Homo sapiens: one gene and its partners. The protein of the gene in region 1 purifies or fractionates together with the protein of each later gene. This does not show direct contact. Each region holds a gene or a part of one and is shown on either strand. Other genes may lie near its edges. The genes, in order: NXT2, AFG2A and NXF1.

Evidence for each region.
Region 2: the proteins of NXT2 (region 1) and AFG2A purify together in Homo sapiens (co-immunoprecipitation; 2 studies listed by IntAct, with this or other methods). This does not show direct contact.
Region 3: the proteins of NXT2 (region 1) and NXF1 purify together in Homo sapiens (co-immunoprecipitation; 6 studies listed by BioGRID and IntAct, with this or other methods). This does not show direct contact.

The regions. Positions count from the first base shown.
Region 1 is NC_000023.11:109,535,241-109,538,991, reverse strand, and holds the start of NXT2 (NTF2-related export protein 2), read right to left. Parts: upstream 2,149-3,751; 5' UTR 2,056-2,148; coding exon of another isoform or gene 1,986-2,055; coding exon 1,971-1,985; intron 1,788-1,970; exon of another isoform or gene 1,591-1,787; coding exon of another isoform or gene 1,579-1,590; exon of another isoform or gene 1,288-1,578; intron 948-1,287; coding exon 861-947; intron 1-860. UniProt on the Homo sapiens protein: Regulator of protein export for NES-containing proteins. Also plays a role in mRNA nuclear export.
Region 2 is NC_000004.12:122,933,058-122,936,808, reverse strand, and holds part of AFG2A (ATPase family gene 2 protein homolog A), read right to left. Parts: intron 3,371-3,751; coding exon 3,312-3,370; intron 2,713-3,311; coding exon 2,071-2,712; intron 1,096-2,070; coding exon 966-1,095; intron 710-965; coding exon 653-709; intron 1-652. UniProt on the Homo sapiens protein: ATP-dependent chaperone part of the 55LCC heterohexameric ATPase complex which is chromatin-associated and promotes replisome proteostasis to maintain replication fork progression and genome stability.
Region 3 is NC_000011.10:62,791,841-62,795,591, reverse strand, and holds the end of NXF1 (nuclear RNA export factor 1), read left to right. Parts: intron 1-584; coding exon 585-657; intron 658-1,151; coding exon 1,152-1,334; intron 1,335-2,820; exon of another isoform or gene 2,821-2,890; coding exon 2,891-2,951; intron 2,952-3,077; coding exon 3,078-3,116; 3' UTR 3,117-3,462; downstream 3,463-3,751. Other genes in the region: TMEM223 (transmembrane protein 223), read left to right, coding at 3,598-3,751.

The DNA of each region.
Region 1 (3,751 bases):
AATGTAGATGACGGGTTGATGGGTGCAGCAAACCACCTTGGCACGTGTATACCTATGTAACAAACCTGCACATTCTGCACATGTATCCCAGAACTTAAAGTATATATATATATAAAATCCTATGCTTAATAAATGGGTTTTATATAAAAAATAGGTTTTTAGAGATAGGGTATTAACTTTTGCAGCTGCAGGACAGAAGTAGTTCTCCAAAGCACAGTTCTATGCTGGTAAGAGACCTAGGCAAGACTCACTTGACCACATACTGACATAATTACGTAAAAGATATGGTGCAGGGATAAGTTGCAATGAAAAAGCTGATGAAATCTCGGTCTGTTGAGGACTTAATATTATCCATGCTACATGCATACTTTTTGTGGGTGTAAGCTATACTTTTGAGCCATGATCAGAAATTATCTATAAATATATGAAATAAAAGGGGCGAATCAGGAAATATTCCCCGTAATGACCCACCCCTTCATTAGCACTAATAATACCTTAACCATATTGGTTAATTGATGGAACTAAGAAAAGGAAACATATTTAAGAAAATATGCTGGGCCTAATGTTAAGTGCGGTATTTTAATTAATTCATACTTACCAACCTGAAAATAAAATGAGGTTAAGGGAAAATGGCAACTTGCTCCAGGTCAAAGAACTAGGTAAAAGTAAACCTGGGATATGATTCCAGAGCCCATGTTCCCACTAATGCCATACCAATCCTTCCCTGAGCAATTTGCTTTTAAAGAGTAAATCCACAGTTACCACTTATGCAAGTCAGATGAAACGCTGGCTCCAGACACAACCTGGTATTTAATAAAGAGTAGTAGTCTATAAAGAGTAGTAGAGTCTATAACACTCACCCGTCTTCTTTTATCCATTGTCTCATAGTAAATATTGACAAACTCCTCAGCAGCTCTACATGCCTGATCTACATAAGTTTTAAAATCCTACAAGAAAAATTCCAGAAGTATAGATTACCAACCTTTTCAACCCCTCACAAACACAAAACCACTGACAGAAGCTGATGATTTATTTCAACCACTATGTAGCTCTATATACAGTCCACATTCTTTCATATAAATTCAGACATTTTAAAGGCCGGACTCTGAAGTTTGCAATTTTAAAATTTTTCACTAATTTTAAGTGCATGTCTTTAGGACATAATCTTCTCAATGAATCTGAGTCTTTTTCAGTCTCCACATATAAATTTATAATCTTTTCTTGGCAACTAAGCACTTTAGACTTTCAATATTTTACAAACATTCACGGCAATGAAAATGACACCACCTGAACCTTAGAAAAGGAGAGAGAGCGGCAAAAACTGCCACTGAATAAGCTAGGAAATTGTTTTCTGTTTTCAAGTGAGGTGTTAGAGCCAAACTCCAAAGTTGATGAATGGGAAACACACACACACACACACACACACACACACGAAAGTAGTTCAACTACTTGAAAAACCGGCAGCTCCACTTAGGAAACTTTCCCACATTGCGTAAATATTCACTGCTGTTTGCCTAAGAACTGTGACACCGAAGAAAGCAACGCTGTTGGCGTTCGTGCCGGAGAATTAAGGAATACCTTCCTTCTCATTCATGTACGGGGCCCAGTCTATTACTAAATTAAGAACAATGAATCGCCAGTTTCTTTGTCAGGTGACTGAAAGTGATTTTTAGAGAGGAAGATAATCGAGAGAAAGAAACTGCAAGCCATAAACAACAAACCCCAACATCCCCGCCTCTCGCTATTTCCCAGCTCAGGGTCCTTTCCGGGATCAGAAAGCGACTGCTAACCAGGCTGGGGGTGGGGCCGGCAGGGCGGGCAGCAAAGCGTGGGCCCCGCCCCGCAGTGCAGAGAGCCGGGACGTGATTCGTCACCTATCCACGTGAGCAGCAGCCAGACCGCCCCGGAATCCCTCCTCTCAGCCACTGGAGTCCGGCGCCCAGCCGTCCTGCCACGGCCCAGGCACTCACCAGAGACGTGGCCATCTGGGACCTTGTAGCAGTGTGTTCTGGCAGTGTCGGCGTCACTACCTCCTCACGTGTCCGGTCCGCAGGGCTGCGGAATGATCAATACTTATGAAGAGAGCGAAACCCGCCAAACGCACAAAATTTTCCACCCTCCCATTCTCTCCCGGAAGTAGCTCGGTCCGTCGTTAAAAGCACACCGATGTTCCAACCTTAAGTTCCACTTCCCTTCAGTTCCTGAAGATCCCTCCCATCCACCTTATCTACTTGTTTGATACTTAGTTTAAAATTTAAAAGCCACTTTGCTTTTGTAAACATGATACTCAACAGGAAAGTCCCCTACTTTTCTAACGACAAGCCTGGGGACAAGCAAAAATGAAAGTGTTCAATTACAGGGACTTTTTTGCCCCAGGAGGCGGAGCCAAAGCCCTCTGAAGACCAATTAGAAATGCGAGGAGACCTACTATTCCGTAGCCTATAGGATAAGTGGGCAGAGCTTGGGGAAAGGCGTGCGTGACTAGTGAACAATTTAGCATTCTGGAACGTTCTGGAAGGATCATCCTCACTGAATTACTACGTTTTGGCAGTATGCCTAAAATTACTATTTCATTTTAACCCAGCCACATTGAACAGGAAAAGTTCATCTGGTTTCTCCATTCTGGCATTTTAAAATGTCTCACGGACACCAACAAAAATTAAGTTTACAGTGCTATTCACCATCTTTTAAGGGCTATTTATTCTGCAAGGTATTCTAACAATAACTAAAATGTCGAGTGCTGACTATATGTAAGGTGCTTTTCTAATCAGTTTTACATATATTCACTTATTATAACAATGCTGAGGTAATTGCTATTATTTTATCATCTTCATTTTACAGCTAAGACTGTAAAATCTGCCTACGGTCACAAACTAGTTGAGATTCAAACTCAAGCAATATAACTGTCATGGCAATGTGGCTTTGCTCCCCAACACCCCTTAAAAACCTCTCATCCCAAAGCCGCCAATGACTTCTGATTTAAATGGCAAATTAATTAGATGTCGTAGTTTTACCTTGAGTGGCTGGTGTGTGGCCCCTCATAATAGTTACTTCTTCTTTGGTATCCTTCTCTGTCTCCCTGAGACCAGTGGCTTCTGTATTTTCTCATACTTTTAATCTTTCTCTTTATCTGGCTCTTTTCTCTTCAAGGTAGGACTAACGGAAGCTTCTTCTCAGCCAGCCAGCTTCCGTTTTCCGTTAACCTCTGACTGGCGTCACTTCCGGTGCATCCCCCCTTTTAAAGCCTCCCTTCTTCAGGGTGATCTAAATTGCTACTCGTATGCTAATGAATCTCAACAACCTATCCCAAGCCCCCACCCCTTATCTGAGCTCCAATTACACATAATAATTTTGCTAAACATGAACGTGACTGCACTATAGGCTTCTCAAACTTGTACGTCCAAAATTTAAACTCATTATTTCCTCCGCACTTCCAAACTTTTATATTCTCCCAGTCACCTATCTTGAATTCTCGGAATCTTTATTTTTTTGGTTCCGCTCTCCTCCTCATCATAATTCATTCAATAAATATTTATCAAGTATTCACTATGTGCCAAAGATTGTGCAAGGCTCTGTATATAGAGTGGTGAATAAAATAGGCATGTTTCGAATCCTTGTGAGGCTCAAAGTGTAATGAGAGTGCTAGACAATAAACATAACATTGAGTTACAAAGAAATACTAAGTAACTTGCTTAGTTCTGACCATTCCCTATAGCAACCCTTCTCCCTCTTCCCCTCCCCTCCCCTCCTC
Region 2 (3,751 bases), on another chromosome or scaffold:
GGGGTTTCACTATGTTAGCCAGGCTGGTCTCAAACTCCTGACCTCAGGTGATCTGCCTGCCTCGGTCTCCCAAAGTGCTGGGATTACAGGCGTGAGCCACCGCACCCAGCCAATTATTTTTATTTTTAAACAGACAGGGTCCCACTATGTTGCCCAGGCTGGTCTCAAACTCCTGGGGTCAAGCAATCCTCCTGCCTTGGCCTCCCAAAGTGATGGTATTACAGGCATGAGCCACCACACCCAGCCAGAGTCATTATTTAATGGGCAAAAGATTTGTCCCTTTGAAGCAAAGTATAACATAACAAAGTTCTAGTATAAAGAGCTACATACAATAATACAGTCTACTAGAAAAGCTAAGCATATTAGAAACACCTAAGCACCTAAAGAAAGTCATGGATTTCTATGCTCAAACAAGGTCACATGACTTATCAAACACTATGTCTTAATTCTTCTACTTTATGTAATTTAATAATATTTATCAAACTTTTAAAGATTAGATAGAAATAGAATTTCATTAGATCTATAATCTACTTCTACCACTATCACTATAATTTTTGTACTACTGTTTATGCTTTGTATAAGGTGCTAGTATCTCACTTTGACTAATACAGCCTTGATTATTAATTCCAAAACATTTAAAAATAAAGAGTACCGTAGAGTGGCTTCAGCAAATATCTGACGTAACTTTGCTTCAGTCTCACCATAGAATCTGTAACAAATAAAATACATTTAAAGACCATTTCTTATTGTTTTTAAAGCTTTGTCTATAAAAGCTAACCTAAATTTTCAATATTTCTATAATACTTAAAATTACTTTCAAAAAGAATTTTCCAAACAATTTTTATTAAGAAGCAAAATATTTCAGTGTACAAAATATCACACAGAATACTACACAATCATTTTTAAAAACCACATTTTAGAAATATATTTAATAGTAAGTTTACTCTATTAAATCATGTACTTACTTGCTTATAATTTCAGGACCATTAATTACAGAAACATAGGCTCCAACTTCATTAGCAACAGCCCTGGCGATCATTGTTTTTCCAGTACCTGGAGGACCATAAAGTAACACTCCTCTAGGGGCAGGAATTCCTGGAAGAAAAAGTAGAAAACACTAGATTCACCATTACTAGGTTTCTTATAAATGTTGTCATACAAGTTCAAACATGAGTTATAAAATTTAACTTTACCTTGCGTCACAAAAAGAGTCAAGAGTTTTTTCTCCCCCTCCAGAAAGATGTACTAACTAGCCCAAACACTGATACCCAGCAATGACTTTCTCTCTCTGTAGACCACAGAACAGAGGAAGCATGTTGGTTAAAAAAAAAAAAAACTGGACACCCACATTGTTGCAACGCCCCATCCCACACAACACAGATCAATGATCGAAAAACCAAGCACAGACAACACAGGTAGACAAGCCACCAATCCCAGTTTTTTTCCAACTAACCATCTTGAAGAGTACATACGTTTGCTAGTATAAAAGGTACATAAGTATGAGCAAAATGCCAATCTAAGGGTTCATTTTACACATACATATATATACATACATGTATGTATATATAAGATTTATGAGAAAGGAAAAAAGCAGAGAGATCAGACACAGCAAATATATGCAAAGGATCTTGGCAATAACAATGCAGCAGAAGCCCTGAGTTTCCTGAGTCAAGCCATTCCCGTAATTACCTGCTTCAGTGCAAAGAGATGGGTACACAGTTACATTTCCTAAGAAGTTTTACCTAATGTATTTGAATGGTTTATCCCTTCAGTCATTACAGATGACCCAGCATGACAAGATACTTATTCTAGATCCAATACAGGTAATTGTGGAAATATGCTATTAGAAGAGACAAGGCTGTCACTAATTCACATTACAACCTAAAAATACCAAAGCATAGCAAATGGCCCATTTAACTGGCATCTCCCAAAGCAACTGAAATCTTCTACCATACCTACTACTCAGAAAATAAAAACAGGAAAAGAGGATGAGCAATCATTACATAAGTGTCAACTGTCTTTTAATTTGAATTTAACATTTTTGGGTGCAATAAACTGAAGACATCATACCATAACTCTTGAAAAGCTCAGGCTGTTTGAGGGGCAATTCAATTATTTCTCTAATTGCTTTCAGCTGGCTACTTAATCCTCCTATCATGTCATAAGTTACTTTGAATTGGTTGTCTTGCTCTTTTGAATTTTTATCAATCTCTGTAAAATTGACTCTTGTTGTTGAAGAAATAAAATAAAAAGTATCAGTATTGCACTTTGCTCCTATGCTGAACTTTAGCAGTCTCTCTTCTTCAGTAAGTTGCTCATTTCCTTCTCTGGCAGATTCAAAATTACATTTAAGACCTGTGACTTCCTCTAGCATAAGTCCACTGCCATCTCCAGGGCTCTGTGTAACATCCAGCAAAACATCACTGGCTTTATTTGTAATTCTGTCATCAATTGGTTTATAAGGAGTACTTCTTGATGTTGGGATCTGGGTATCCTCCAGATCTAACTGGCTTAGCTGTAAGGATAACTCCAGGCTACTGGTTTCCATGCTGGACTGTTCAAAGGCCATTCTTTGGGCATCAGTGTCAGAGTCACTCTGAGGCCCTCCCAATATCATGCCATCTGCCCCTTTCACTCGCAATACTTGCAGCTTGTACGGTCGTCCATAGAATGTACAATACAGAAAGTTGCCTGGTAAAACAATCTTGCCATCTAGAAAACAGTATATTAAATATACATGTTAGCATAATTTTTTTTACCAGTTTAATGTTTAAATAGCAATATATTTCATCTATTATCTGAAAAGACTAAATCAAAGACAGAGTATTAATAAAATAATTGTCATAAAAAATTGAGGACCTAATATTCCCCTATAACACCATCTGGAGACAGAAGGAAATGATTCTCTGAAATCCTCCACACTCAGTAGATCTCAGATTCTATCAATCACATCAACAAATAGCCAGGCATTCCATATTCAATAATAAACTAAATGAAAATGGCACACCCAAACCAACACTCCAAGATAGCATCTGTCACTGGAAAGGGCAAGAATGCAAAGGTTAAAAGTCTCAATTCTACCACTGACTCTTTCCACAGACAAGTCATATATTCTTTCCACTGCTCAACTGCCAATTAACCAGGAAAAGTAGCACATCCCTATCTTAAAAGTATATTCATTCATTGAGGGGAATATTCTCAAAGCTATTTTGAAGAAAACTACTATGCATATATAAGCCCTCAAAGACACTTTATTTGCTGATGCCTTGCAGCTTAAAACTTAAGAAAACAATTTAAAATATTTGTCTCACCTAGTTTTCTCAGGATACAACCAGTCAGTTCTTCTTCATTAATTTCCATATCTTTGTCACTGTAAAAGGATAAGAAGGGAACAGAAATCAGCATTAGGTACACCAGAAACTAAACTGTGATGTAAAATTACATGTATATGGTTATAATATAGACTTAATCAAAAGAATAATCCACCTGCAACCTTAAAATAAATAATGTATACAATTTTGAAATGATGGGCATTTTTCAGAAACATATAGCCATGAAAATATCATTTGGAATCTGGTGCCTTAGTGGCCTAAATCAATGTTCTTCAAAACACAAGGGTAATGAAATCATTTCAGTCAGCCTCATTCAGCACTTTGTTAATAGAATAAGAAATGCAGGGTACACTGAATATAGAAAGGGTAAATACTGCTTTGTAAAACATTAACTTCTAACACATACATACACACATGCA
Region 3 (3,751 bases), on another chromosome or scaffold:
GTAATAGCCGTCTCATAGTGGTGCTATAGGAAGTAAACTGAAGTGACTTACAAAGTGCTTGGCCTGGGGCCTGGCATACAGATGCTATCAGTGGATTAGTAGTTATTACTTTTTTTTGAGATGGAGTCACACTCTATCACCAGGCTGGAGTGCAGTGGCGCAATCTTGGCTCACTGCAACCTCCGTCTCCTGGGTTCAAGTGGTTCTCCTGCTTCAGCCTCCCGAGTAGCTGGGACTACAGGTGCGCACTACCACGCCCAGCTAATTTTTGTATTTTTAGTAGAGAAGGGGTTTCGCCATGTTGGACAGGATGGTCTCGATCTCTTGACCTCGTGATCTGCCCACCTCAGCCTCCCAAAGTGCTGGGATTATACGCATGAGACACTGTGCCCGGCCGTAGTTATTACTATTGTCCTTTCTGACCTGACCCTTCACCCCACCTGTGCTTCCCTTATACCCTTATATACTTAATCATTCCTCTCTGACTTGCTAGGATTCTTTATATCAAAGACCATGATTCAAGAAGCTGTTTGTAAACATAAAGCACTAGTGACCCTAAGGTGTTGTTGCTGTTCTTATTGCAGTGGACGGAAAGTCCCGGGATTCTTTGCGAGCCTTCACCCGGACATTCATTGCTGTTCCTGCTAGCAATTCAGGGTAAGTATTCTGCTTTTCGCATTGGATACCAGTCCTAATCCATGGCCAACAGTGTGGTAATTGGAGGGTAGAGTCAGTCTTTGGGGTGATTTCAGAAAGGCAACAGGAAATCAGAGAAAGCTCACATAGTAGTTAAGAGCCAGTTAATAGCTTGGCTCTGGAATTGTACCGTCTGGGTTTTCATCCTGGCTCCACCACTTCTAGCAAGTAGGCTGCTGCCTCATCTGAAAATTCATATAACAATATTCATTTCCTAAGTTTGTTGTGAGGATGAATTAAAAGAGCTAAAGTCCATGCGTTGGGAGAACCCTAGTGTGTTTAGTAGATAATCCTTCCAAACATTGATTCCATGGGAGGGGATAAATGATAAAAGGTAACAATAGCTAAGAGTGGGAGGGGGACCTTGTGGATATTGAAAGAATCAGAGAATAGGAATGATGTTGGGAGGATGATGTTATCTCTGTCTAGCTTTTTAAGTGCTCTTTGTCCTCAAGGCTATGTATTGTAAATGATGAGCTATTTGTGCGGAATGCCAGTTCTGAAGAGATCCAAAGAGCCTTCGCTATGCCTGCACCCACGCCTTCCTCCAGCCCGGTGCCCACCCTCTCTCCAGAGCAGCAGGAAATGTTGCAAGCATTCTCTACCCAGTCTGGCATGAACCTCGAGTGGTCCCAGAAGTGAGTGCGGGGCATGTGTAGGATGGGGATGCACTGAAGTAGGGCTAGTAGTAAATAATGAGGGCTCCTGACAGTTTTTTTGTTTTTTTTTTGGAGACAAGTTCTTGCGCTGTCATCCAGGCTGGAGTATAGTGGTGATCATAACTCACTGTAGCCTCTAATTCCTGGGCACAAGCTGTCCTCCCACCTCAGCCTCCAGAGTAGCTGGGCCTATAGGCATGTGCCACCTTATTTTATTTTATTATTTTTTTTTTTTGGAGGTGGAGTCTTGCTATGTTGCCCAGGCTGGAGTGCAGTGGTGCGATCTTGGCTCATTGTAACCTCTGCCTCCCGGGTTCAAGCAATTCTCCAATCTCAGCCTCCCGAGTAGCTGGGATTACAGGCACACACCACCATGCCTGGCTAATTTTTGTATTTTTTTTTTTTTTTTTTTTTTTTAGTAGAGACGGGCTTTCATCATGTTGGCCAGGCTGGTCTCGAACTCCTGACCTTGTGATCTGCCTACCTCGGCCTCCCAAAGTGCTGGGATTACAGGCATGAGGCACTGCACCCAGCCAAATTTTTATTTGCTTGTTTGTTTTGAGACAGGGTCTCACTCTGATGCCCAGGCTGGAGTACAGTGGTGTGATCACAGTTCACTGCAGCCTCAACTGCTAGGGCTCAGGTGATTCTCCCACCTCAGCCACCTGAGTAGCTGGGACTACAGGCATAGGCCACAGCACCTGGCTAATTTTTTTGTATTTCTTTGCAGAGATGGGGTTTCACCATGTTGCCCACCTAGGCCTCCCAAAGTGCTGCGGTTATAGGTGTGAGTTACTGTGCCTGGGCTCCTGAAATTTTAAAAGGCAAAACTTTTGGCTGCTTAAAAAAACCTAATAGTTGGCTGGGAGAGGTGGCTCACACCTGTAATCCCAGCACTTTGGGAGGCTGAGGCGGCCAGATCACGAGGTCAAGAGATCAAGACCATCCTGGACAACATGGTGAAATCTCGTCTCTACTAAAAATACAAAAATTAGCGGGGCTTGGCGTTCCACGCCTGTAGTCCCAACTACTCGGGAGGCTGAGGCAGGAGAATTGCTTGAACCTGGAAGGCGGAGGTTGCAGTGAGCCGAGATCACGCCACTGCACTCCAGCCTGGTGACAGAGCAAGACTCGGTCTCAAAAAAAAAAAAAAAGCAAACAGAAAAACACAAACCTGATAGTCTATAAAAAATTTGCCTGTGTATAAATTAACATAAAAAACTTTAAAGGTAAAATGGAAGTTCCTTTTCATATACTGTTCTGCAACTTAGTTTCTTTACTTACACCATGAACATCTTTCCCTACCACTGTAAAAACTATCTTGAGCTTCTTGACAGCTATTTAATATTCCTTATCTTTGAGAAGCCATTGGTAGAACATCTGGACTTTTACTAATGTCTCATTTGTATAAATAGTGCAAGGATGTATAAGAATGTACATATTTGTTGGCAAACTTGGGTGCTTTTATGGAGTGGACTTTCAGCTGGCATTTACGAGTCAGAGTTCTTACAGAGCTGCCTGTTCTTCCACTCCAGGTGCCTTCAGGACAACAACTGGGACTACACCAGATCTGCCCAGGCCTTCACTCATCTCAAGGTAAGGTCTGGAAATACAGTGGCAAAAAGACTAGGATCTCTGGGCCTCCAGGAGGTCAGGTTAGCTGAGTGGGGTTGCTGAGTGGCGAGGGTAGGCCTACCTCTACTGACCTTCATTTTTCTCCAGGCCAAGGGCGAGATCCCAGAAGTGGCATTCATGAAGTGATCGTAGTCATGCCTCAGAAGCAGTCCCCCCTGTAAATAGTCCTTGGATATTACCGTCTGGTTGTCGTCTGTCATCTCCTCCTGTCTGGCCCGAGGCCGCCCCGTGACTGTGACCGAGGGAGGGAGGGCTGCCTGATCCCTCTCCTCGCCTGCCTTCTGGAAGACTTCAGAAGATTGAGCCTCACTGGTGCCAGGAAGCCAAAGCTTACTTTGTAGAACTGACACTAAACTACCCGAAGGACTTAGGTGCTTTGTGTACTTAACCCCAGGACCTCCTTACTTTTTAATATAAAGAGTGATGTTGTATTTCGTGTTCTGCACTTTTTAATATAAAGAGTGATGTTGTATTTCGTGTTCTGCGTGCTGGATTGGTTGTCTCCTCCCAGCCCTGAGCGAGGGGGGCGGGCCCTCTAGCGGGGGCGCCCAGGGAGGGCGGAAGGCGGCTCTGCGGCAGGAAGCCCCACCCCGGAAGTCGGCTGGCCATGGCGGCGCCTTGGAGGCGATGGCCCACGGGGCTGCTAGCCGTGCTGCGGCCCCTGCTCACCTGCCGGCCCCTGCAAGGCACGACGCTGCAACGGGATGTGCTGCTCTTTGAGCATGATCGGGGCCGCTTCTTCACCATCCTCGGGCTGTTCT